5 separate regions of the Homo sapiens genome follow, and regions 2, 3, 4 and 5 are each reported to be linked to region 1. The links are microRNA targets in miRTarBase. Many come from high-throughput screens and were not tested one by one. Region 1 holds a microRNA gene; each other region holds the end of a gene's coding sequence.
The links. The annotated mature microRNA hsa-miR-769-5p reads UGAGACCUCUGGGUUCUGAGCU and lies in region 1 at 2,309-2,330, opposite strand. An mRNA with a match to its seed (bases 2 to 7 or 8) in the 3' UTR can be bound and repressed. Matches are read on the target gene's strand: a 7mer-m8 pairs with bases 2 to 8, a 7mer-A1 pairs with bases 2 to 7 and ends in A, and an 8mer does both.

Region 1 (5,103 bases):
AACTTCAACATTTTGTTTCCAAGACTCAGGCGCTCTGATCCTAAGTGTTCCCATGAGGTCACGAAGGCCCGAGCCTCGGGTCCACATCACCACATACAGAAGCAGCCGCTGTCTGGCCCTCAGCTTTTAGGATTCCGAATCTGGTTCTAACGTTCTGAATCCCCTTTCCATGTCACGTCACCTTCTCTCTCTGAGCCTCGTTTCTTCACCTGTAAATGGGGCTTCTGACTGTACCCGCTTGGCGATGGTGGCTGAGGTTTCAATGAGATGCATTCATGCAACAAATGACCAGGGAGAACCAACCACCCCCGACCCCAGCACCATCATGCCAGGCTCCGGGAATATGGCAGGGCCATAACCAGCCAGTCCCAGCAGCCAGCATCACCAGCAGGGCCATAACCAGCCAGTCCCAGCAGCCAGCATCACTGGGGCCAGATTCTGGGAGCTGGCTTCCTAAGCAGCAGATTCGGGACTCAAGATTCGGAAGTTCCGACATTCTGTGCGTCATTAATGACACTGTGAGCGCGGGGGCTGAGTTGGCACATACTGCAGCTCCAAGGCACTGATCTTCTAGTTCATTCCCATTTGCCAAGTCAGACACGCTCAATCAGATGTGCTGAATGAATCAGCCTTAAGGATCTGCTGCCAGGCTTGGGAACCTCAAAGAGGCAGGTGCTGGGGCTCCAGGGTCGGTATCTGGTTACGACCCCAACTTTGAGTCTGTGATCCTGTCCCCCAGTGGACCCCGAGGGCAGGAAGCAAGCTGGGGCAAAGGCAGAGTTCTGAGAGGCAGGGGGCTCTGAGTAGCTTGTACAAATTATGTCGCTTTCTGAGTCTCTGCTCTCTCTGCTTAAGATGAGGATGATAAGAGTCCCTGCCTTGGCTGGGCACGGTGACTCATGCTTGTAATCCCAGCACTTTGGGAGGCCAAAGGCGGGCAGATCACCTGAGGTCGGGAGTTCGAGACCAGCCTGGCCAACATGGTGAAACCCCATCTCTACTAATAATACAAAAATTAGCCGGGTGTGGTGGCTCATGCTTGTAATCCCAGGTACTCAGGAGGCTGAGGCACGAGAATCACTTGAACCCAGGAGGCAGAGGTTGCGGTGAGCTGAGATCACGCCACTGCACTCCAGCCTGAGCAACAAGAGTGAAACCCCGTCTTAAAAAAAAAAAAAAAAAAAAGTCTCTGCCTCAGAGGGCTGTCCTGCAAGGATTCAGTAAAACAGGACTTCCACAAATCCTCTAGGGAGGCAGGAGAGAGCAACGCACAAGATCACATGGGTGGGGACCATGGAGGCCTGGTTAAAAACCCCAGCTGTGCCCCAGACAGGCTGTGTGACCCCGGGGCAGGTGATTCTACCGCTCTGATTCTGTCTATATAAAACGGGGGTGATAGTGACTCACAGGGTTGCTGTGAGGATGGAAAAAGGTGTATGCAGAGCTGTGCTTGGCACATGGCAGGGGCCCAATAAATGACCACAGTCATTGTTACTATCGTGGGAAATTAACGGGTGAGAAGGATGCTGGGGAAGTTGTGTGCACCACGGCAGTAACGGAGGCAGGGTGAGTGGAGGAAGGAGGAGGAGTCCTCCTCGGGAAACCCTCCCTCACTCATCAAGCCCCCCCACCTCCCCATGCAGCTTCCTGATTGGAGAAGACGGGCTCGTATACGAGGGCCGTGGCTGGAACTTCACGGGTGCCCACTCAGGTCACTTATGGAACCCCATGTCCATTGGCATCAGCTTCATGGGCAACTACATGGGTGAGTGACTGTCCAGCCAGTTGGGATGGGGGCTGACACGGGGCCCTACGCTATCACTTCCCCTTCGGGGAAGCCCCTGCCTGACTCCTACCTCTGCCTCCTCCAGATCGGGTGCCCACACCCCAGGCCATCCGGGCAGCCCAGGGTCTACTGGCCTGCGGTGTGGCTCAGGGAGCCCTGAGGTCCAACTATGTGCTCAAAGGACACCGGGATGTGCAGCGTACACTCTCTCCAGGCAACCAGCTCTACCACCTCATCCAGAATTGGCCACACTACCGCTCCCCCTGAGGCCCTGCTGATCCGCACCCCATTCCTCCCCTCCCATGGCCAAAAACCCCACTGTCTCCTTCTCCAATAAAGATGTAGCTCAAAATGTGTTCCTCAGCAGGTCCCACCACACACCTCCCCTCCTTCTCTCCCTCCCACAAGACCAAAGCCCTCCCACCCCTTCCCCTCCCAGCACTCTCCTCACTGGTGCTTGGAACCCAGAGGCCCCGGCCCTGAACCAAGACCCCGGAGATCCCAGCTCGAGAGCAACATCACAGCTCAGAACCCAGAGGTCTCAGGTCAGAGCCCAGGAATCAGCACCAAGGCGGCCGGGATGTCACCAACAGTGGGTCCTGGGGGTCCTCCTGGGCAGTGAACCACGCTGCAAGACACCTCCTTCCCACCACACAGCCAAAGGCATCCTGCGCAGAAACTTTGCTTGGACTCCTTTAGGGACGGGCTGCTCACTACTCCTCCCAGGTCTGCCCTTGCACTGTTTAGAGAGTGTACAAGCTTTTCCTAGGCCTGAGTCCCAATCTGCCTCCGAGGCACAGACACACAGGTCCCAATTATACCCCCCAATTTCTCTTCCTCCACATTTCTCCCCACTCCACCCTCACCCTTTAGTCATAAGCTGAGGGGTCCCCAGGGCAAATATGTTTATTTACAAAATGCACACATCCTCCCTCCCAGCATGCACTGCCTGGGGAGAGGGCAGGGTCAGGGCCTCACACACCTGAGACCCCAGGGGCAGCAGGAGGGACGGGGCCAGGGCAGGGACTGGGCAGGGCTGGAGGCCACCCTGGCCCCACCCCCCACACCATACCCAGCAAGTGGGTGGGGGATGGAGGGGTAGTACCCCTTCTCCACGTTATGACCGCATGTCCAGTCGGTTCATGTACTCCTGCAAGGCCTTCAGGCGTGCGTCTATTTCGGCCATGTCAGCCGCCTGGTGCTCCGAGCTGTACTCTGTGAGAGCAGGTGTGGGTATGGGGGCTGTGAGGGGCCTGAAGCCCCAGGGAGTTCCTGGGCCCAATATACCACTGCCCGCACTACCATTCCAACGGGTCCTGGGGCTGGGAGAGGGGATGTGGAGTCCCAGGCTCACCTTTGATGGGGACCCAGCCCCCGGAGTTGGCCAGAGATTTCTGATGGTGGCTGCGTTCCACGGGGGGAGACTTCTGGTGATGGGGAAGGTAGGAAAGGGGGTCACCCACCGTCCCTCTATTTCTGTCCCCCTAAATCCCACTGGAAATCCTGAGCCTAAGGACCTTGGGGAAAAATAAGGCCTGACACCTACTGGCCATTCATTATCTGCAAAATAACCTCCTAATGTCCTCACAGAGCCCTCACCTCACATGTGAGGTGATGCCATTACCAACCCTGGTTAACTGATAAACAAAAACTAAGGTACAGAGAGGCTAAAGAACTGCCTTGAACCATACAGCTGGGAAGAGGAGGAGACAGGTTTCAAGACCTGACAGTCAGAAGCCAAAGCCCTAAAGAGCATCACGTGCCCCTCATTATTCCTTCTCCAATCTAATGCTCTCAAAACGTGCTGTTCCCAGGCCAGGTGCGCTGGCCCAGCCTGTAACTCCAGCGCTGTAGGAGGCTGAGGATGGCTTGAGGCCAGGAGTTCCAGACCAGCCTGGGCAACATAAAGAGACAATACCACCCCCTTATCCTGTCTCAACCCCACCCTGCCCCCCCAAAAAAGCCTAGTCCCAGCTACTCCATAGGCCGAGGTGGGAGGGTCTCTTGAGTCCAGGAGTTGAAAGCTGCCGTGAGCTACAATTGCCCCACTGCACCCCAGCCTGAAAGAGCGAGACGCACTCTTAAAAAAGCCCTATTGCCAAAGGCATTCAGAGTCGCCTCTGCACCTGATCCCCAGGAAGGAATCACAGGAAATGGGGGCAGCTGTGTTCCAGTGGTTTATGTTGCCCCTTCTACTCACCATATTGGACCCACTCCAGGGCGTTGGGCTGGGAGGCTTCCCACGGCGGCGGTGACCCCTGAGAAAAAGGAGTAACCAAGGACCAGTGGTGGGGAGGCTCTGGTACTTCCCACCTCCCCGACCTTTGTGGTTTCAAGGCCCCCAGGCTCCATCACCCAATTTCCCTGCAAAAGACTGTTTCTAGTCTCCCCAGAAACCCTTTGGAGGCGATCCTTTTCCCAAGTTCAAGTTTTACCCTCTGGAGAGCGACTCAGAGAAATCCTCCAAATCGCTGCAGGAGCTGGCAGACGAGCAGCGGCTGCGGAAACTGTCCACTAGAGGGAGACGGAGGGCGTGACCGCTGGCCCTCGCTGGCCCCGCCCAGTGCTTCCCAGGCCCTCCCAGCCCGCCCGCCCTGCCCAGTGCCTCCCAGCCCGCCCAGCCCCGCCCAGTCCCGCCTAGCCCGGCAGCCCCCAGCTCCAGGCCAGTTACCTGAGGAGCTGCGGTTTCGGGAGCGGTTAGGGGCGTCCCCTCGGCCAGTCAAGGCAGCAGGGGGCTGGGTCTGGCGAGACCAGGAGACGGACGGACCGTCCCCGCTTCCCCCACTGCCTAAGCGGTTCCGCTGCTGCTGCCTGGGAAAAAAGAAAGGAGACGCCGGTCTGTACGCCCAACTCCTGCAGGCAAGGGGGTCACTGCGCCCCTAAAGGTCACAGCCACGCCAGCGAAAGCCTGAGGTGACAGGCCTACGAGCGGAAAGCACGCAGAAACACAGACGAGGAGGTAGGACGGACGGAAGGGAGAGCAGGCGGGGTATCCGGCGAGAAGCGAGCAGGTGGCAGGGGATGGAGACTGATGGTGGCGTGGAGAGATGAGAGCCCGGGAGCGGGCACGGGCCAGGGACAGGGGCAGGTGAGGGAGGAAGGGGCACTGACTTCATCTGGATCTCTCTCTGCTTCCTTTCCTTGGCTTTCACAAAGGCCGTGGGGTCGAAGCGGAGCGCGCGACCACCTAGGACGGCGTGGGAGAGGAGGCGGCTAGGTCCGGAGACGGGCCTTGGCAGCGCCAGTGCGTCCCCTCCCTACCGCAGGGCAGGGGCACAGACCTGTGGGCGAGGGCGAGGGGCGCGCAGGGCGGCCCC
Region 2 (5,103 bases), not on the chromosome of region 1:
GATCCAGTGTTAAGGGCTATAGGTCTCTCACTAGAGGTAAGGCTAGAGAGATCATGGGTAGCAGTTATTGGTGTCTAATGTCTAAGTATCATTGGAATGGTTATATCTTGAGAAGAAATAATTTTGTCTAGTTAAAGAGGGTTATTTTGAATGGATGTGAATGAAACTATCTAGGAAAATCAGGCTCGTGAGGCAATCTGCTTGCTCCGTAAAGCCCACAGCTGTGTGAGGATTGATGTGTCAAAAGGCACCAGCTCTGAATTAAAAGTTCCATGACTGCACAGGATGATGCAACCCAGGGCGGGCTTCTGGCACGCTGCAGCACATGGACACAGCCAGCACAGGGACACTGCACACACAAGAGAAGCTGTAGAAGGGAATGGCTCCTCAGGGATCCACAGTGCCCCAACACAGCTTTTCTGTAATCTATGACTGAAAGTCTTGGCTTCCACGACTGAAGTTGTCTTCATTTTATTTATTTTTAACTTCAGCTTATAAAAGGCCCCTTATGATTTTGATTTTTAATTAGGCTCCCAACTTTATCACTGATCTCCATGCCCTACCCTTACCCAAATGAGTGTGTTAAGTCCTTAAATACACATGGATTTTGGATAATACGTAGTTTTGTGTGTGTATGTTTAACAGTTATGTAAGTGGCACTGTGCTATAAACATCGAGTTTGTTCTTTTTCCGCTCTACCCTATGATTTAAGTGTTGCTTTATGAACATATAGTATGTTGCTTCTCACAGCTGTGGTATACTAAAAGGTGTATTCAGCACGATTTACCCAGCCCTTTCCCTAGTGCTGGACACCTAGCCCACCTCCAGTTTCCACCACCATAGTTAGGTACGAGAGCAGAATGAATGTAGCAGTACGTCTTGTAGTTGAATGTCCTTCCTTTGCCTGCAATTACTTGTCAGCCTTTTCTTCTGTTTCTTCCCTTTCTTGGGTAGAGGACAATATCTACCAGAACTCATTTTTAGATCATGAGAACATGCAACGTCTCACTTCTTGTAGAGCAATTTCTCCTTTGGCTAGTCCAACAACTTTCTCAGAGGTACACATGTGTTTATTAAGTTAAAAAAATAGCACAGTGGTAATTCTCAACTCTGGTTTTGCCTGAAGGTTGTGAAAATGGGGAAAAAACCCCAACTAAAAATAAAATGATATTTAAACATTTTAATTTAAAAATAAATATATGCCATAAAAAGGCAAGGGGAAGAGAGAGGAAAAGACAAAAATCAAGTAACCATGAAACATGGAGATGTTTCCAAAGTAAGAAATCGCTTATCCACAGAGTAAACAACAGTTTGAAAGCTCGGTGTATTGAACTCTGAGATAGGAAAGGCAAAAATGAAGAGAGAATAAAGTTTGGGTGTACAGAAAAACCAAAATGTATACAGTCCTCCAGTACCAAGTGCCAAGCTAGATTGATGTTGAGATAAAACTGCTGCAAAGTGAAGCCAGAGAAAAATTCTTGCTGACTCAAAGAAAGAAAACCATCACATGCAGAATCAATTTTTATTTCTGAATTATACAGTGAGGCTATATAGATATATTGTGTCATTAAAGACTTTTATATTATTAATCTACATTATGGAGAATTTATTTACCAAAACGAAGTCTAACAGACACTTTATTCTGAGCAATCCAATGCATGATAGAAAAACCTTTAGATATATAAAAGATTAATTTGTGCACATCTAAATGTTTCTAAGGGAACAAACTACTGAGGCATTGTGATAAGACGAGAGTTGCAAACATAGTACCATAACTGAATATTTAAAATTACATCTTAACAAAGGCTAGGAGTAGTGACTTCCTCACACACCTCAGAGAATGTCTTAGAGAGTAACCCCATAGAACATTGTATGGCTTCAACAGAAACTTCAGGATTTTCTTCCACACTGAGCTACTGCCCTCAAACAAACTTTCTCACTCCTTGACACTATCTTCTGTGCAAATTTCTGTTCTTTCTCTTAATCAAGGAGCTTTGAGAAACAATGCTTTTGCCCCAATGACCCCTTGGTTCCCTTAACTACAGATCTATAGGAGAAATGCAAAGCAGTTCCCAGAAGTCAGAACCAAAGCAAGAATGTTCAGAGTGCAAGAGCTAGAGAGCTAAATCATGTGAATGTTTACCTCTGTCTACCTATCTGCTTAGGGATTATTTTTCTAGGATTCATCTAGGATTCTATTTACTTGGGGTGAATGTACATGGTAGCTTTTCCCTAGCACATGCAATTAAATTAATTTGTCTTTTAAGATAATAAAATAGCAGATACCTAAATATCAGAGTGGTTATGCAGCCTACAGAACAGCTGAAACAAAATCATTGGGACAAATGCCCATAATTTTCATGTAGGAAGATGAGGCTTCAAACAGCATACCACCTGAGTAGTTTTCCATAGATGAGCTGGACAAGTTAAAAATATATATATAAATGGTGAGATTGTTGCTGTGTCTGTTTGGCTATAACAAGAGCCCTCTATGAACAGCTCTATGCCCTCAGGTTTGCACCACTACACTGAACACTGGATTTTTCATTACTTCCTGTGACAGGGTGACCATGGAATTCATTTTACAAAATGGGATGCTACTGAGTGAAAGTAGCAAATAGGTGAACAAACAGGAATATTGGGTAACTGTATTTACGTCAACACTGTGTTCTGGGAGAGGTGTAATTTGGGCTTTCAAAAGTGGAGGTGGGCTGTGGGAGGGGGTGGGCTGTAGGGTTTTTCTGTCCAACAAGCCAGATGTTATGAAGGAGGAGATCCAACAGAACATACAATTCAACAAGATACTCGCTTGAAAGGATCAAGAGGAGAAAAGAGAAAACGATGGAGGCTTATGGAGGAAAGAGGGCTGAACTGCGTGTGTGTGGGCACGTGCGGAAGGACGGGAGGAGACAGAGGTGAAGCAATGAGGTCAGAGAAACTCAATCACCTGTGCAAAGATGTCGACTTTAAAGTAGTTACAAGCTCCTTCTACCCAGGACTCCAAATATCCTGGACAGCTCTCCCCAATGAATTTTCCACCATGAGACTAGGGTGGAACCGCTCTCACCCCTTCATTTTTATTTCTGCCAGCTTCTTTGTAATAGGAGACACTGGAGACTAAGAATGGTTCCCAGAGTGAGGCACGGACTTCAGCCAACACCTGTATATACTAAAGAAGTGCTTCTAAGAAGGCTTCATTTTGGCAATTGCAACCTAAGCAGTGATTTTGTGGCTAGGACTCCTCATGTTTTTCAGCAAGCCATTTCTTTTATTTCACTGTCTGTGGATGTCAAAACATTGATTTTTGACAAAAATAAATTAGTTTGCAGCCTCATTTGTCCGTTCTGTTAGAGAAACTATCTAAATACAAATTGGGGTGGAGTAGGAAAGGATGCGTTTGCTAGAGCAGGGGTCAGCAAACTTTTTCTGTAAACATAGTCAATGTTTTAGGCATTGTGGGACATACGGTCTGCTGAACTGCTCAGCTCTGCGGCTGTAGTGTGAAAGTAGCTGTAGACAGTACAAAAACAAGTTTGTGTGGCTGTGTTTCAGTACCACTTTATTTATCGGCACTAACATTTGAATAATTTTCATGTGTCATGAAATATTCAAAAAAAATTTTTCCAACCCAAAATGTAAAAACCATTCTTAGCTTGCAGTGGTGAGCGAGACTTAGCTGTGGTTTGCCACCCCACCTCACTAGAGGCCTACAGACTTGAAATCTTGTTGGCATTTTAAAGGGCATATGAAGACTATAAAGGAAATATTTTGTACATGAAAGTAATACTCATATTTAATTTTAAGCCTATGATCAGATTACGGTGTTTTAAAGCAGATCACTTTTTATAATGCATGCGAGAGAGGAATTCATGAATAACTGAATGCTACCAAATGATTTTTGAGTAGGCCACCTTGCACTTGAGTTCTTGGCACTTAAAAGGTAACCTCTGGAGCTGAGTTTATGGCCTGAAACTCAGAGAGCTACCAAACATGCAACACGGATTCTTAAATTTCACAATGTGGTGGTCACCAACATTCATCAGGAAAATGATGTTAAAAGACCAATTTACATAAAATATAATGCCCAATTTGACAACTAAAATAAAGTTGACGTGGATTAGAAAGCCCGGCTTCCCTTTGAGAAGTTAAAGGAGATTCTGGTAAACAAGAACAAAACGGGCACTTAGCTGATGATGGTTTTACACCTTGTGTGGTTTGTGGCTGTCCTAGTCAGGCTTAGGATTTTAAAGGTGGAGTCAAACAGGGGAAACTTTCCTGGGGAGAGTTGAGACCTGTGTACTTTAAACCTAATGCAATCACCAAAAGGAAATCCAGCTAATCTATGGAAACAAATCCACTCATACTTAACAGTGGATTAAAGGTATCTTACTGGTAAACACCAGTCTAAGGGACAAAGTATCACTACACCGTGTTAATGAAGTATTGAAATGGAAGGTCCTACTTTCTTGCTAAGGCTCAACTAAAATCTTTGAGGCACATAATTGGCAAAATAGGAAAGTACACACAATTTCATAAAATATCTTAAGAGTAAACAAACTTTCTATTTTTCCCCTTAGAAATTTAGAATGGCACCAGGTAGTGCAAAGTGGAAAAAGGTAACATCAGCCCTGTCTCTTTCAGGTAGATATGTTTCAACAGAACCATGAACCAGAAAAGCATCCTCTTCTTCCAGCATGGCCAACTAAGGCTTTTCTTTCAGCTTCAAGTCAATACTGCAAAGAAAAGAAAAAGAGAGAGAAACATGAGAAACCAAATGAGAGACATTTAGTAATGATTTGGGTAGCACTGTGTTTGCTTTTTTCCTCAAAGGACATACTGAAAATATTTAAATCATGCAAGTTTCTTATAATAGAAAAATCTGGTAAAACCCAATCCTCCTCTTGTCAGGCTTTTCTCCAACATATGAAATCTGTTTAGTTCTACAAAATCGTTTCTGGAAGCATTTTACACCTTTTCAAAATGATCCAGGGAGGTAAAAAACTCATGTAAAGGCTCATTCCCAAAGTCAATTAAGATAAGGAGCATTAGTGTATTCCAGAAATCATGCCATTTTATTTAATAAGTGACCTTTCCTTGTGAAGC
Region 3 (5,103 bases), not on the chromosome of region 1:
GCCGGGCACGGTGGCTCACGCCTGTAATCCCAGCACTTTGGGAGGCCAAGGTGGGCAGATCCCATGAGCCCAAGGGTTCAAGACCAGCCTGGGCAACATAGAAGACCTCGTCTCTACTAAAAATGTAAAAAATCAGCCAGGTATGGTGACATGCACCTGTAGTCCCAGCTATTATACTTGGGAGGCTTAGGCTGGAGGATCACTTGAGCCTGGGAGGTTGAGGTTGCAGTGAGCCAAGACTGTACCACTGTACTCCAGCTTGGGTGACAAGTGAAACCCTGTCTCAAAAACAAAAACGAAAAGCAAAAAACTAGAATATTAGCAATTTCATGTGGTTTAATACATGTAAAACTATGCTGATACATATTACAAAACACATGTTAAGAAAATTAGTTAAAAAGGAACTGTATACCAAAAAGCATGTAAGAAGATGCTCAATATTACTAATGATTAGGGAAATGCAAATCCAAACCACATCATCTCATACCCATTAGGATGGCTGCTATGGAAAAACAGAAAAAAATGTTGGCAAGGACGTGGAGAAACTGAAACCCTTGTTCACTGTTGGTGGGAATGTAAAATGGTACAGCTACTAAAGAAAACAGCACAGCAGTTCCTCAAAAAAAACTATAGGCCAGGCGCGGTGGCTCACGCCTGTAATCCCAGCACTTCGGAAGGCCGAGGCGGGTGGATCACCTGAGGTCAGGAGTTCCAGACCAGCCTGGCCAACATGGTGAAACCCCGTCTCTACTAAAAATATAAAAATTAGCCAGGCGTGGTGGCATGCGCCTGTAATTCCATCTACTTGGAAGGCTGAGACAGGGGAATAGCTTGAACCCAGTAGGCAGATGTTGCAGTGAGCCAAGATCGCGCCATTGCACTCCAGCCTAGATGACAAGAGTGAGACTCTGTCTCAAAAAAAAAAAAAAAAAAAAAAAAAAAAAAATTACCATATAATCCAGCAATTCCCCTGCTGGGTATATATTCAAATAAATTGAAAGGAGGGTCTTGGAGAGGTATTTGTACACTTGGGAGCACTTTCAGCATGTTCATAGCTGCATTATTCACAACAGCCAAGGGGGGAAGTAACCTAAGTATTGTTGACTGACAGATGAATGGATAAACAAAGCATGGTATATACATACAAAAGATCATTCAGCCTTAAAAAGAAAATTCTAGCCAGGTGCAGTGGCTCACTCCTGTAATCCCAGCATGCTGGGAGGCCAAAGCAGGAGGATCACTTGAGGCCAGGAATTCAAGACCAGCCCGGGCAACATAATGAGACCCCGTCTCTAAAAAAAAAAATAAAAAAAATAGTTGCCAGGCATGGGGGCACATGCCTGTAGTCCCAGCTACTTAGGAGGCCGAGACAAGAGGATAACTTGAGCCCAGGAGTTTGAGTCCAGCCTGGGCAAGAGTCTCTTAAAAAATAAAATTCTGACACATGCCACAACATGGATGACGACACTGTGCTAAGTGAAATAAGCTCGTCACAAAGTGACAAATACTGTATGATTCCACCTGTATCAGCTATCTAGTCAAATTCATAGAAGTAGAAAGTAGAATGGTAGTTGCCAGGGGTTGAAAAAAGGGGGAAATTGCTGGGCGCGGTGGCTCACACTTGTAATCCCAGCACTTTGGGAGGCTGAGGCAGGGGGATCACCTGAGGTCGGGAGTTCGAGACCAGCCTGACCAACATGGAGAAACCCTGTCTCTACTAAAAATACAAAATTAGCCGGCCGTGGTGGCGCATGCCTGTAATCCCAGCTACTCGAGAGGCTGAGGCAGGAGAATTGCTTGAACTCGGCAAGTGGAGGTTGTGGTAAGCCAAGATCACGCCATTGCACTCCAGCCTGGGCAACAAGAGTGAAACTCTGTCTCAAGAAAAAAAAGGAATAAAAGAAAAAAGGGGGAAATGGAAAGTGTCAGTTTCACAAGATGAAAGAGTTCGAGATCTGTTGCACAGCAATGTGGATACAGACATAACACTATTGAACTGTACACTAAAAGTAGTTAACATAGTAAATTTTCTATGTGTATTCTACTACAATTAAAAACTTTTTTTAAGTGAGTACATAGCTTCAGGGAGAAACAAAAAAGTTAAAACAAATATGGCCAGGTGCGATGGCTCCTGTTTGTAATCCCAGCACTTTGGGAGACCGAGGTGAGTGGATTCCTTGAGTCCAGGAGTTTGAGACCAGCCTGGCTAACATGGTGAAACCCCGTCTCTACTAAAAATACCAAAAAAATTAGCTGGGCGGGGTGGCGCATGCCTGTCATCCCAGCTACTTGGGAGGCCAACGTGGGAGGATCTCCTGAGCCTGGGAAGTCGAGGCTGCAGTGAGCCATGATTGCACCCTGCACTCTAGCCCAGGCAACAGGAGTAAGACCCTGTCTCAAACAAAAAACAAAACACAAAACTTGTGCTCTGTAATAGGGCAATAAGAAATAAATTATCTAAATTCTGTAGCTCTGCTAGTTTCTTGCTGGAGCCCACTGCATCCTCTTGAAAACTGCCTTCTCGAAGTCCAAAGCACCCAGCAAGGCTTAGTGCCCCAGTCCCCCTCCCAAACCCCCAATGAGCCACCCTCCAATCCCAGCTTGAGAATTCACAGGAAGGGCCACTTCACCCACGTTTCCAATTGAGTTTTATTCTAGAACAAATGGTTTTACAACAAAGCTGATCTTAAATAGTACATTTCCCCGCTGATAACAGCACCATCTTCCTTCGACCCCCAGACCAAGGGATCAAAGCTACTGCTCAATTGAGTTTGACATCAGCTACCGACTTTTAAGGAATCTAGAACAAAGTTCTGGAGCCAGGCCAGAAGTGGTAAAAGATTCAGTTAGCCCCTTCCTCTGTGCTGTGCTGACAGGGAGGGAGCCAGTGACTGGACAATCTATGACCCCAAGTTTGTGGAACGTGGGGCTTCAGCTGAGGGTGGGGTAGTGTGATTTCAGCAGTGTCTGTACCTCCCTGACCCCTGCGCTGCTTTGCTCTGTTGTCACCTCCCGCACAGTGTCGGGACACTGACCGGAAGCCAAACCTGTGCCTGGTGGCCACAGACAAGACACACGGATATCCGTGAACCTTGCTGCTGTGCCCTCACCGAGGCCAGCGCCCCACCTGCTGGAACAGCCAAGCCGGAGCAGTTCTGTCTGGGCCACAGCTGCTCAGCCTGTGGACTCAGGTGTTATCCTGAAGAAGTTACAACAAATTCTCAAAGAATAAACAATGGGCTTAAAAAAAAAAAAGGGGGATAAACAGAAACTCACAGTAGCTGTGGCTCACCATGTGCCAGGCACTGTGCCAAGCACTTCACATTTAGTGCTCATTACAACCCTATGAGGTAGGCCGTACCACTATCCCCACTTTACAGATGAGGAAAAAACAGCCTCAAGAGTGAAGTCCCTCGCTTGCTTAGTATCTCAAAGCTAAGCTGCAAGCAAAGATGGGGCTCCAAGGTCTGTGTGACCTGAGCTCTTGGTTATCCAATACTTCAAAACTGTCACTTAGGAAAGAAGAGAACATTTTTAGAAATAGGAGAAAACCCAACAGCCACAGTGATTGTCAAAGAGCTGAGGGGGCATCAGACCAGGTTCGGGGGCACCAGACCAGGTTCAGGGCCACTGCGTAACTGCCAATGCCCTGCCCCAGCCCCAGGAGACACGCAGACTCCACTGCCCTAGACGAGTGGCCCTGCTGTTAATAAATAAATAAAGGTCAGGCACAATCCTACACAAAGGCCCCAGAATTCAAACCACTGTCTTGTTTCTCAGACTTTTGCTTAAGAGCCCAGTACTGGGTGGACTGGGGAAATCCCTGATTTGGGTCAAAATAAATATGCCAGTTCTCGTCCAAAGCTTACCTGCCTTCCCTCCTCCCTGAGCTGTGCCTGGGGCTTTCTGTTGCCAAGAAATGTTAAGGAGCCAACTCCCCACGAGAAGCCTGTGGGCTCTGCTATTCCACTGTAGCCTAGCAGGGAGCTGACAGGCCAGGCACGGAGTTCCTACAATGGCTGTAGCCAGAGTTCCAGGTCAGGGAGGTGGGGAAGAAATGCCTCCTTTAGGACTTAACTCCTCTTTAACTTCAGGACATGTTTATTCTGAACCCAAATGAGTGGAGGAAGAGGTAGGCAACAAAAGGAAGAGAACTTTACCCCCAAGTCATTGAGTTGGGGTAAGGGAGCTCCAGGATATTGACACCCCCACCCACCATCCCCAGAGAGGATGATATGATCCCTTTCATTAGCACAGCATGATGACTCAGGAGATCTGGGGGGTGGGGAAGGCCACGGCAACCTGGGCAGTCTGTTGGCACATTCCCTACTCCTGCTGGGCCCTAGAAGATGGTCCACCTGACATCTCCATGGAGTCTGTAAAGTGCCATTAGCAAAACCACAGGAGTCAGAAGAAAGAACCAACAGCCCTGGAGAGAGAGAGGGCTATGCTGTGTGCAGAGGGTGTCAAGGTAACAGATGACCCCTACTCCTCTGGCCCTGGGGCTGGCTCACTGCATCCTGCCCCACCCTGCCCAGGAAGGAGTGCCCGCTGCTCTCCTGGCCCCCACTTCCTACCGGCCACACCGGAAGCCCAGCCAGGGAGCCCCGCCCCCTTCTCAATTCCTTCTGTCCTGTGCCTCCCTGGCTCCTCCTCTGCTGCCGTGGGCCAGGTCATCGGGCCAGTACTGGTCCTCCATGTACTGTTCCATGTCTGTGCTGCTGTCAGGTTCTCTGTCCTCGGGGCAGGTCCAGAGGCTGCGGGCCTCCTGCTGTTCCCACTGCACCTCCACCAGCCGGTAGAGCTCCATGGCTGTCGTGGCATCTTCTACTGATGAGTGCCCGTGCTGGCCCACCTACTGACGAGAGCCAACACATCACTGCCTGCAGGCCTAGTGAGAGGCCTGTTACCCCAAGAAGCAAGGCCAGTTTCCCAGGGCTCTTTGTGCAGGCCCAAGAATACGTATGCTCAGAATGGAGGTTCACAGAAAAGGGATGGAACCTCAACTGTACACCATAAGCCATGCAGCTTCTCCAAGCCTGTTTTCCTCAAATATAAGGCATGCTAAAAATCTCTTGCTTCAAAGGCTTGCAGATCAGATGA
Region 4 (5,103 bases), not on the chromosome of region 1:
GGTGGGGGGAGGGAGGAGGAAAAGAGAACCAGGGAAGCACCCCTCTCCAGTCCTGAGGGTCCCCACCCACTCGCTCAGCGCCCTCCCTCTCTCCCTCCCTGCCCAGGAGAGAGCTGCGAGGACAAGAGCCCGCCAGGCCCAGCATCCAAGCGGGTACGCACGGCATACACGAGCGCGCAGCTGGTGGAATTGGAAAAGGAATTCCACTTCAACCGCTACTTGTGCCGGCCGCGCCGCGTGGAGATGGCCAACCTGCTGAATCTCACGGAACGCCAGATCAAGATCTGGTTCCAGAACCGGCGCATGAAGTACAAGAAGGACCAGAAGGCCAAGGGCATCCTGCACTCGCCGGCTAGCCAGTCCCCTGAGCGCAGCCCACCGCTCGGCGGCGCCGCTGGCCACGTGGCCTACTCCGGCCAGCTGCCGCCAGTGCCCGGCCTGGCCTACGACGCGCCCTCGCCGCCTGCTTTCGCCAAATCACAGCCCAATATGTACGGCCTGGCCGCCTACACGGCGCCACTCAGCAGCTGCCTGCCACAACAGAAGCGCTACGCAGCGCCGGAGTTCGAGCCCCATCCCATGGCGAGCAACGGCGGCGGCTTCGCCAGCGCCAACTTGCAGGGCAGCCCGGTGTACGTGGGCGGCAACTTCGTCGAGTCCATGGCGCCCGCGTCCGGGCCTGTCTTCAACCTGGGCCACCTCTCGCACCCGTCGTCGGCCAGCGTGGACTACAGTTGCGCCGCGCAGATTCCAGGCAACCACCACCATGGACCTTGCGACCCTCATCCCACCTACACAGATCTCTCGGCCCACCACTCGTCTCAGGGACGACTGCCGGAGGCTCCCAAACTGACGCATCTGTAGCGGCCGCCGCCAGCCCGAACTCGCGGCAAAATTACCTCTCTTGCTGTAGTGGTGGGGTAGAGGGTGGGGCCCGCGGGGCAGTTCGGGAACCCCCTTCCCCGCTCTTGCCCTGCCGCCGCCTCCCGGGTCTCAGGCCTCCAGCGGCGGAGGCGCAGGCGACCGGGCCTCCCCTCCATGGGCGTCCTTTGGGTGACTCGCCATAAATCAGCCGCAAGGATCCTTCCCTGTAAATTTGACAGTGCCACATACTGCGGACCAAGGGACTCCAATCTGGTAATGGTGTCCCAAAGGTAAGTCTGAGACCCATCAGCGGCGCGCCCTGCAGAGGGACCAGAGCTTGGAGAGTCTTGGGCCTGGCCCGCGTCTAGCTTAGTTTCAGAGACCTTAATTTATATTCTCCTTCCTGTGCCGTAAGGATTGCATCGGACTAAACTATCTGTATTTATTATTTGAAGCGAGTCATTTCGTTCCCTGATTATTTATCCTTGTCTGAATGTATTTATGTGTATATTTGTAGATTTATCCAGCCGAGCTTAGGAATTCGCTTCCAGGCCGTGGGGGCCACATTTCACCTCCTTAGTCCCCCTGGTCTGAACTAGTTGAGAGAGTAGTTTTGAACAGTCGTAACCGTGGCTGGTGTTTGTAGTTGACATAAAGGATTAAGACCGCAAATTGTCCTTCATGGGTAGAGTCAGGAAGCCCGGTGGCGTGGCACAACACACTTTGGTCATTTCTCAAAAACCACAGTCCTCACCACAGTTTATTGATTTCAAATTGTCTGGTACTATTGGAACAAATATTTAGAATAAAAAAATTTCCCAGTCGGAACTGTATCTGTGTTAATCATGCACACTTGCAAGCAGATCACTATGCCTTTATCTCGCACAATCCCCATGGAAGGCCCCGAAACAGACTGACACTTTGAAAAAAATATTTTATTTATTTGGAGTCTAGTGCATAAATTGGTTCTCGGGATACTTGATTACTTTCCAGCTATTGAAATTAGGGGAGGGGGAAATGAGGATGCAAACCTAAGAAGGTTCTGGGCGGGATGATTTGGGCAGGGCTTTTTGAAAGCAGCGCCTGCTTTGCTGTTTTTACTGCCTTCTTTCTAGACACAATCGACTTTTACACTGGGGAGACCAGAGCTCACTTTTCTGCATTAAGTAACAAAAAATAAACTTTGAAAGAAAACTGACAATCAAAGAAAAAACACAAGAGAAGTTGTAAGAAGAATTGAGCTATGAAAAAGCTAAGGTGTAGAAAAAGAAACCATCATTTGGAGACGCGTACCTAAGCTTTTTCTCTAGGAAATGCTGTCATGAATTCTTCCTTTGTAGTGATCATTAGTTCATTTCTAAAGAAAACAAACATTCCCCAAGATGTAAAGTAATAATATTTCATTAATGAAACATAACAAGTATAAACACCTTGTTTACTCCTGTTTCTTATACAAAATGGGCAAAAATGTCTTCAAGGATTTATAACCATTTTGTAAATATTAATGTGGCTTCTGCTAGGGGTGGACAACTTCCCGGCTTCTATGGGAGGGGCCACTTAGAAAACGCCTTCAGATAAGGTTCAATTCTTTTGTATTTCAGCAAAGTCAGCCCACGCATCTCTATTTGGTTTGACAAATAATGCAACTCCTACTACATCCCCGATGACACGAAGTGAAATTCCTATTGTGTGGAAATAATTTAACTTCTAATCTTCTGGTGGAACAACAATCGTTTCTATTTGGATGTTTGTATTTCACTAAGTAATGATGGCTCAAAATAATATTTAGTTTCCTTGTTCCTTTGTGCTGTTTTTAAAATGGCATGTTAGATTTGGGGGTGGGAGGGGATATCCTTTTGCTAAATTTCACTTTATCTGAGCAGGTTTAAAATATATATGTTGTAGAAGTGTATCAACAGAATAAATGACTTCAATCGAAGGCACATTTTACCCACTTTCAAGGCTTAACATTGTTTTCTATGAAATTTGCATCCATAGGCAGAATTTCTAATTGTCTTGTAAGAAATTATTTTTTAAGCTATTAGAGAAATCAAAGGAGAGCTCACTGCCTTGCAGGGATTACAACCACCTTTCTTAACTGGCTAAATATTAACTAGCTGAATTGTCAGGCTGCTTAGATTCAGCCCGATTTTCCCTCATCTCCTCTTCCTACCATAAATAATAATAAAAATACGTAATGTGTCATGGCTCCAGGCGTTTTCCAGCACAGTGTGTTACCGCAGGAGTATCTGCTGAGTCTGCGGGTGTCTGCAAAGCCCCAAGTGTCATTTGCGGCTTAGGGTTTCATGGATTAGACTTTAAACGGTGTCTAGCCCGGCTGACATTAGCTTCCTCTCACACTCAGGCTCCAAGGAAGTGTGGGATCAGGGGCTCCCTCTCCAGGCAGCCACAGCTTTCCCCGACGCCCTCCTCTCGAGTGGGGTGAGGGCTTGGACCAAATCTGCCACCTTCTGTCATCTCTGGAGGTTCCCGAGACTTCTAATAGCTCGGATCTGTTCCTGCCATTGGCGTGAGACTCATCTGAGGGGCGTGGGTGGGGGTGGGCGGCGAGCCGGGGGAGGGCGCGTTTCCGCGCGGCTGCCAGCCCAGGAGAAAGTTGGGGCCCGCGGCACAGCCATTTAAAACTTCATAAATTATAAACAAGCCGCCTTGGCCTTCGCAATAAATTCCGCTCCTTTTGAGCCTGCAATTAGTGTTAGAAAGCAACCGAGTCTAAACACAACCAAACGCCCTCTGAAGGGCCCAACTGCCTGAGGTTGCAAACCTTTATTTCCCAGCGCCACCCCCTCTCCGACTGAGGTTTGCACACACAGTCGCCTCCTCCCCCGCCACCGCCGGCGGTACACACTCGGCTGGGTTCCCGCTCTGCAAGGGAAGGTCACAATAGCTGCTCTATCGGCTGCGGAGGCGCCTGCCGCCTCCCTCCCGAGTCTCAGAAGCAGAAAAACAAGAGAATGGGGGAGGGGAGGCCCCAGCAACAGCGCCCTTTGCGGGAGGCAACCTCCACCCTAGCCAGGGTCTCTCTCCTGGGACGAGTGCTCGCAGAGGGTTGCGGGGAGGGCAAAGGGAGCGCACCAAGACCACCAGGCTGCTCCAGGCCTTGCCGCAGGGCGCTGGGTTGAGGGTGCCCGGAGCAGCCGCGCCATTGTGTGTCAGGTTTTCCCACGGGATCCGTGATGGGGGAGGCCATATAAAGGGAGCTCGGATCCGGGCCTCTCCGGCATTGGTCTCTGGGAGGGTCTACCTCGTTTGCCCAAGGGGAAGAAATGGCTCTGTCTCAGGCCTTAGCCAGCTCTGCTTTTTTCCTAGAGACTACTTTGGGGAAGGTGGGGATCAGGGAGATTGTGGGTCCTCCTGGGGTCTGAAGAAAGGGGTCAGGGCAGGATCTCAGGCCCATGGCTGAGGGGTGGCAGTCGTCTGGACATTCTAGGTGGTTCTGTCCAGGCAATCAAATATGAATTAAGGCAGGATAGCTGTGAGGCAGCCAGAATGGCCAGCTGCAAAACGGGAGGTGGGGGTGGGGAAGGAGATGCAGACAGTGAGAGCTTTCCCTGCAACCAAGAAAAACTCAGGATCCAGCCAGGAGTTGAAGTGCTGAGACCCAACTGAACTAGCCAGGAAGAATGGGGAAGTGGCAGAAGAAAGGCCTGGAGAGTAGTCCTGGTCACTGGTAAGCAGGTCAGAAAGGGCGATTAAGTACATATTCTGTCTCCTGGCTTTCAGACCTCCACCTTATCCAGGGACCTGACAGAGAAAAATCTGCCTCTGATGGAATCATTAAGTTAACCATCCATTTGTACCATTTCTTTGTACAGGCTTTCAAACGAGAGAGAGGAGAGAATACAGGAGGAGAATGTTTCCCCTTGGTGCAGCCCCAAGCTCCCTATCAGAGACACATCAGCCAAATTAGTTTCCGAGGCTCACAGGCTGCTAACATTGCTGAACAAGATTTTTCGAATTTCTATGTGTTAGGAGTATTAAAAGATAGTGATTACCTATACTAGCAGCCTTTGTCCCTTTTCTCTTCCCTAGTCTGTACCAGCCCACTGGCCCTTGAGTGAAGTGCATCTTCTCAGCCTGCGGACTTGGGAGCTCAGGCTCTCCATCTGTTGAGGTTTTTCATTAGGGAGACTACAGAGGATGTGTGTGGGTGTGTGTTTGAATAACAAAGAAGTAACCCTTCATTCTAATAAAAGTGTTCCTCTGCTTGACCTGGAG
Region 5 (5,103 bases), not on the chromosome of region 1:
ATATGGTCATTTCAGAAGAAGAATGATAGTGTATTATAAAAATTTATGTTAACAAACTGTTGTATTTTACCTAGTCGTTTTACATGCCTAAATATTGACAGTATACTAGATATGTTTGTGGATAGTTGTACAAAAACTGGACTAAATAAAGCTAAACTAACATCTATTAGCATAGTAGAATTCTGTGTAGATTAAGATTTCCCCTAAATTATTTAGGGGAAGTGTTGATAGTAGGGCCATTGACAACCTATAGCGAACATTGCCCAAGAGATAAGGTCAGTGTTGTTATTCACAGCTGCTTCTTATTTAATTTAGCTATTGCTGAGTCTGTCTGATTTGTTTTCTTAGGTGCTGAGGGTGTAAATGGAGGAGAGGAGTCTGTAAACCTGAATGATGCAGATGAAGGATTTTCATCAGGGGCTTCCCTCAGCAGTCAGCCAATTGGGACCAAACCATCCTCCTCTTCTCAGAGGGGAAGCTTAAGGAAAGTAGCAACTGGGCGTTCAGCCAAGGATAAAGAAACAGCCTCTGCCATCAAATCCAGTGAGAGCCCTCGAGATTCAGTAGTTCGCAAGCAGTATGTACAGCAACCAACTGATCTTAGTGTAGATTCAGTTGAGCTGACACCAATGAAGAAACACCTGAGCCTGCCTGCTGGCCAGGTGGTGCCAAAAATCAATAGCTTAAGTCTAATCCGGACAGCCAGTGCTTCCTCAAGTAAATCATTTGACTATGTAAATGGCAGTCAAGCAAGTACCAGCATTGGGGTTGGCACTGAGGGAGGTACTAATTTAGCAGCCAACAATGCTAATCGATACTCAACTGTCAGTCTGCAGGAAGACCGGCTAGGTCAAGCTGGCGAAGGTAAAGAGCTCCTCAGCCCAGGAGCCCCCTTGACCAAGCAGTCTCGATCCCCAAGTTTCAATATGCAGCTAATATCCCAGGTGTAGTTTTGACATCCTCCCTCATCTTTCTGCTTACCTTTTAAACTGAACATTTCATTGTGCAAGAAGACACTTCATCCCACATTGTGAAAATATTGGTCACTGTTATCAGATTTCATTTAGTTTAGGTATCTTCATACTGTATTTTGTATCAAAACAGCAATAAGGTTTTCTTTATCCCTCTTTCCTACATCTTCTCTTCACCTATCCCTTGTAAATGTGTTTGTGAAGCAGTATAAAATGGTTGCCTTTTCCATGCCTTCCTTTCTCCTTGGGTGATGTGCAATCCATCGTAGGCTGATCGGTCCCATTTCAACACTGTGAGACTGAGGGTACATTAGAGGAAATGGTGTATATGATCCCTATGAAACGATTCTTTGGCTTTTGTTTAAAAACAAAACGGGTTTGTTCTCATAATCTATAGAACTATGAAGATTACTGGATCATATTTTTTTCTCTTAACCAGGAGTGCCTCAGAGATTCTGCTATGACTTTGGACTTCTCTGAGTCTGTGCAATCATTTTCTGGAGAAGCATGGGGAAAGGTGGTAGACTGCTGCACTTTTTCATTAAAATGAGGGTAGCTCTTTCTCCACCCCCCCATCTCCTTTATCCCGAAGACATAAATGTTCAATTACGGAGGCATTTAAATCAAGTTGTGACCACCTCCATTGGAGGGCAGGACTCTTGATTGTGTAATTGATAATGCACTTTCTCAATGGCTGTATAGTCATTATTAACGTGTCTTCCCTCTTCCCCACAAGGACATATAAGGTCATTTCTGTCCTTCAAGTTTGGCCAACTAACAAATCAGAATCTGAGGGGCATGTTCTATTTCCCAGGAATGATTGACACTTTGGTGCTGGGGTTTTGTGGGGGCGGGGGGTAGTTTTTGTTTAGCTTTTGTGGAGATTGTGTGTGTGAGAGGAGATTTGATTTTTTTTTCTTCTTTTCCTTTGTGAGCTGATGGCTGAAGTGTAACAGTACATCTTCAGGTAAAGAGAGGGATTTCTCAATCTACTTTCTGTTATGTCAGACTATAAGAGAAACCCTTTCAGCTGCTTTCTAGATGTACCTAAATTCAGTCAGACATTTTGGATTAAGAAACCTAAAGTCCTGATACATTACATACTCCAAGGAAATATATCAGGGACAGACAATTGGCTGAAACACTGATACTTCAATGTGACACATTTTTATAGAACATTTCTACCAGGGGGTACTGACCTTGATTTCTCCTACAAGGACCACACTGCCTTTGTGTTTAATGTAATGCAATTTGTGTACCTTCTAATCATATATCTGCAGTTCCTCATTTTTATAAAACTTTGATATCATGCCAGTAAGCTAGATGTTGAATGTATGTAAGTAGCATTTGGTAACTGCTAAGAGGTTACAAAAACATTATTGGTAAAAAAAATTTCCTTAGTTCTGATCTGGTTGGATAAGATTTTATCATAACTTTTCTGGGTCTCAGGCTCTGATGTTTGAAAAAGAAGGGAATATATTGGGTTTTAAAAAAGTGTATTGTGACTTAAACTGTTATAAGTTATCCTTCCACAGAATACATCAGAGCTATCAGTGCTTTGTACATTTAGATGTTTTTACTTGATTATTGTTTAAGAAAAATATACTGAATTTATAGAAAGCAAGTATTCTCCTAATTAGCAAAAGTTAAAATTTTATCTCTACCATTAAAATTACAATAGATTTTGATAAATAACCAGAAAAAACGCCTTTTTTTTTTTCACACCTAGCAATCCTCCCGTTTTTATTGTAAGGACTTTCTTTTTTCCCTAAGAGACTTTCTGTTAGACTCTTTATATATGAGATGCTTGTTTAAATATGGTGGTCTGTAACATTTTTCCAGCTCATGTGAAAATGGAAAACTAGAACCTGAACTAGTATCTACAACATTGCCAAAGTCCAGGGTAAAGCTAAAAGTTGATAAGTAGACAATTTATTGTTTTGTGTGTGTCTGTGTGTGTGTGTGTGTGTGTGTGTGTGTGTGTATGGTGTGTATATGTATATATCACAAAGTTGTATTTTAAATATTTTAAATACCCTTTCTTTTAATTTAAGGGATGTCAAATAAATGAAAGGAGTTTAAAAATAGCCAAAATAAATGAGCTATAAAGGCCCATAACATACTAAAACAGGCAGTTTCAGGTATGTAAGGAAAGGAACATTATACTTACCTAGAAAGTGAGATCTAAAAAAAAATTAAAAATAAATAAAAAATAAAAAAGAAAGTGAGATCTTGGCTATGGCTGGAGGTCAGTCACTTTATGGCATAAATTATTTGGGAGGTAAAAAGACTGTTTTCAATTCAAATTGTGCATTTATTGGCATCTAAATCTAGCATGATTTTGGTTAGAGCACAAAAGAAATACCACATAATACCAAATCACAGCAAATGTTAGAATTAATACAACAAAATTTTCCTTTGGCTAGAAATCTTATGTTATACCTGAAAAATTGGTTTTAAAAAATGTTCATCTTGGCCGGGCACGGTGGCTCACGCCTGTAATCCCAACACTCTGGGAGGCTGAGGTGGGTGAATCATGAGGTCAGGAGTTCGAGACCAGCCTGGCCAACATGGTGAAACCCTGTCTCTACTAAAAATACAAAAAATTAGCTGGGCGTGGTGGCAGGCGCCTGTAATCCCAGCTACTCGGGAGGCTGAGGCAGGAGAATCTCTTGAACCTGGGAGGTGGAGGTTGCAGTGAGCCAAGAATGCACTACTGTACTCCAGCCTAGGCAACAGTGCAAGACTCCATCTCTGAAAAAAAAAAAAAAAAAAAAAAAAAAAGTTCATCTTAGAGGATTTTATTTATCTGTATGTATATACATATATGTTTGTATGTATACATACCCACATTAACATTTTATGACCCTGTAACATTTGTTTTCTATTCTTTTAGGTGATGTGAATTGACCTCAGTGAAGAAACATTTCATTTAGTCTAAGCCTTGCATTCAGGGTCTTACAACAGATTTCTTGTGCAAGAATTATTATTAGTTAAAATGGAAGGTGTTAGTTTAACAAACTGAGAGTCAAATTTTCTAAGTTTTTAAATATGCATTTTAACATGCATTATTTTTGGCATTTAATTTAAAATAGTTTTGTTTCATGTATACAACAGCTGTTACAGATATATGCCAGCAATATTCATACTTTTTTAACAAGCTTTTGTTATATATTTTCTAATCTCCATAAAAGTCTAATCATCTATGAAAAAGATATTTAGGGAGAAAATACTTGTTTTCTGTAATAAAACAATTAGGTTGGTGCCATGTATGCCAAGTTGGATAAAAGAATACAAAGAAACAGCTGAAGGTTTTGGGAGCTCGCTCTGACATTAATTACTAGAAAGCAAACTAAAATGCAAAGTGAATAGTTAACTCAGAAGATTTGAATTTTTTGAAATAGGGTCTCACTCTGTCCTCTAGGCTAGAGTGCAGTGGCACTATCACGGCTCACTGCAGCCTCAACCTCCCTGGGCTCAGGTGATCTTCCCACCTCAGCCTCTGGAGTAGCTGGAACTCCAGGCATGCACCACCACACCTGGCTAATTTTTGTATTTTTAGTAGAGACGAGGTTTTGCCATGTTGCCCAGGCTGGTCTCGAACTCCTGGGCTTAAGAGATCCACCCACCTGGCCTCCCAGAAGTGCTAGGATTACAGACATAACTACCACACCTGGCCTGAAGATTTTTAAATGTGAAAATATTTTAAGAAGCTAAGGGGAAAATCGTTATTTTAAAATCCTGATCCCCTTAACTTTACCCCTTACCATTCCCCTTACCTTTCCAATTCACTTTTGTCTATTTATTATAGAATCAGAATTGTGCTAAGAAGAAACCCTGGAGATAATCTAGCTAGTCTCCCACTCCCTCACCCCAACCTTCATCCTCAAGAAACAGAGGCTCAGAGGTTGTGGTGTGATCAAGATCATATACCTAAAGCAGAGCCAGAATCAAACCCAGTCTCCCATGGGTTTGGGGAGGCAGTGGGTTGTTAACTCCATTTTTGCAGTTTCTTTATAGTTCTGGTCTAGTAGTTGGTGAATACAACACATTAAGAAAAGTGTTAAATCCAGAAAAAATGTAGAGTAATCTAGATGGGGAAATGTTGGAAATGTTAAGTATATCTACAGAT

Region 2: the mRNA of PRUNE2 is a reported target of hsa-miR-769-5p. Seed matches in the 3' UTR shown: 8mer at 4,287-4,294.
Region 3: the mRNA of AEN is a reported target of hsa-miR-769-5p. The part of its 3' UTR that is shown has no 7-base or 8-base seed match.
Region 4: miRTarBase lists HOXD3 as a target of hsa-miR-769-5p. Seed matches in the 3' UTR shown: 7mer-A1 at 990-996.
Region 5: miRTarBase lists HYCC2 as a target of hsa-miR-769-5p. Seed matches in the 3' UTR shown: 7mer-A1 at 2,413-2,419 and 7mer-A1 at 4,376-4,382.

What each region holds. Positions count from the first base shown.
Region 1 is chr19:46,016,188-46,021,290 of GRCh38, reverse strand. It overlaps MIR769 (microRNA 769), which reads right to left and starts at 2,359; the gene lies at 2,242-2,359. It overlaps CCDC61 (coiled-coil domain containing 61), which reads right to left. Exons shown (of 14, transcript NM_001267723.2): 8 at 5,068-5,103; 9 at 4,898-4,973; 10 at 4,458-4,597; 11 at 4,222-4,300; 12 at 3,987-4,044; 13 at 3,141-3,213; 14 at 2,675-3,001. The coding sequence ends at 2,904. It overlaps PGLYRP1 (peptidoglycan recognition protein 1), which reads left to right. Exons shown (of 3, transcript NM_005091.3): 2 at 1,644-1,765; 3 at 1,872-2,138. The coding sequence ends at 2,053. RefSeq lists a silencer at 4,369-4,428.
Region 2 is chr9:76,609,868-76,614,970 of GRCh38, forward strand. PRUNE2 (prune homolog 2 with BCH domain) reads right to left here. Exons shown (of 19, transcript NM_015225.3): 19 at 1,509-4,733. The coding sequence ends at 4,703. All of the region lies in intron 5 of LOC105376095 (a long non-coding RNA gene), which reads left to right. Among named protein-coding and RNA genes, the nearest start is that of PCA3, 150 kb to the right of the region's middle.
Region 3 is chr15:88,629,810-88,634,912 of GRCh38, reverse strand. It overlaps AEN (apoptosis enhancing nuclease), which reads right to left. Exons shown (of 4, transcript NM_022767.4): 4 at 2,632-4,855. The coding sequence ends at 4,619. Among named protein-coding and RNA genes, the nearest start is that of ISG20, 6.7 kb to the left of the region's middle.
Region 4 is chr2:176,171,411-176,176,513 of GRCh38, forward strand. It overlaps HOXD3 (homeobox D3), which reads left to right. Exons shown (of 4, transcript NM_006898.5): 4 at 107-1,688. The coding sequence ends at 864. It overlaps HAGLR (HOXD antisense growth-associated long non-coding RNA), which reads right to left. Exons shown (of 3, transcript NR_033979.2): 3 at 1,779-5,103. Among named protein-coding and RNA genes, the nearest start is that of HAGLROS, 4.2 kb to the right of the region's middle. RefSeq lists an enhancer at 211-821.
Region 5 is chr2:200,977,117-200,982,219 of GRCh38, reverse strand. HYCC2 (hyccin PI4KA lipid kinase complex subunit 2) reads left to right here. Exons shown (of 13, transcript NM_001321623.1): 13 at 349-5,103. The coding sequence ends at 950. The region is part of intron 1 of LOC105373835 (a long non-coding RNA gene); the gene reads right to left. Among named protein-coding and RNA genes, the nearest start is that of ORC2, 16 kb to the right of the region's middle.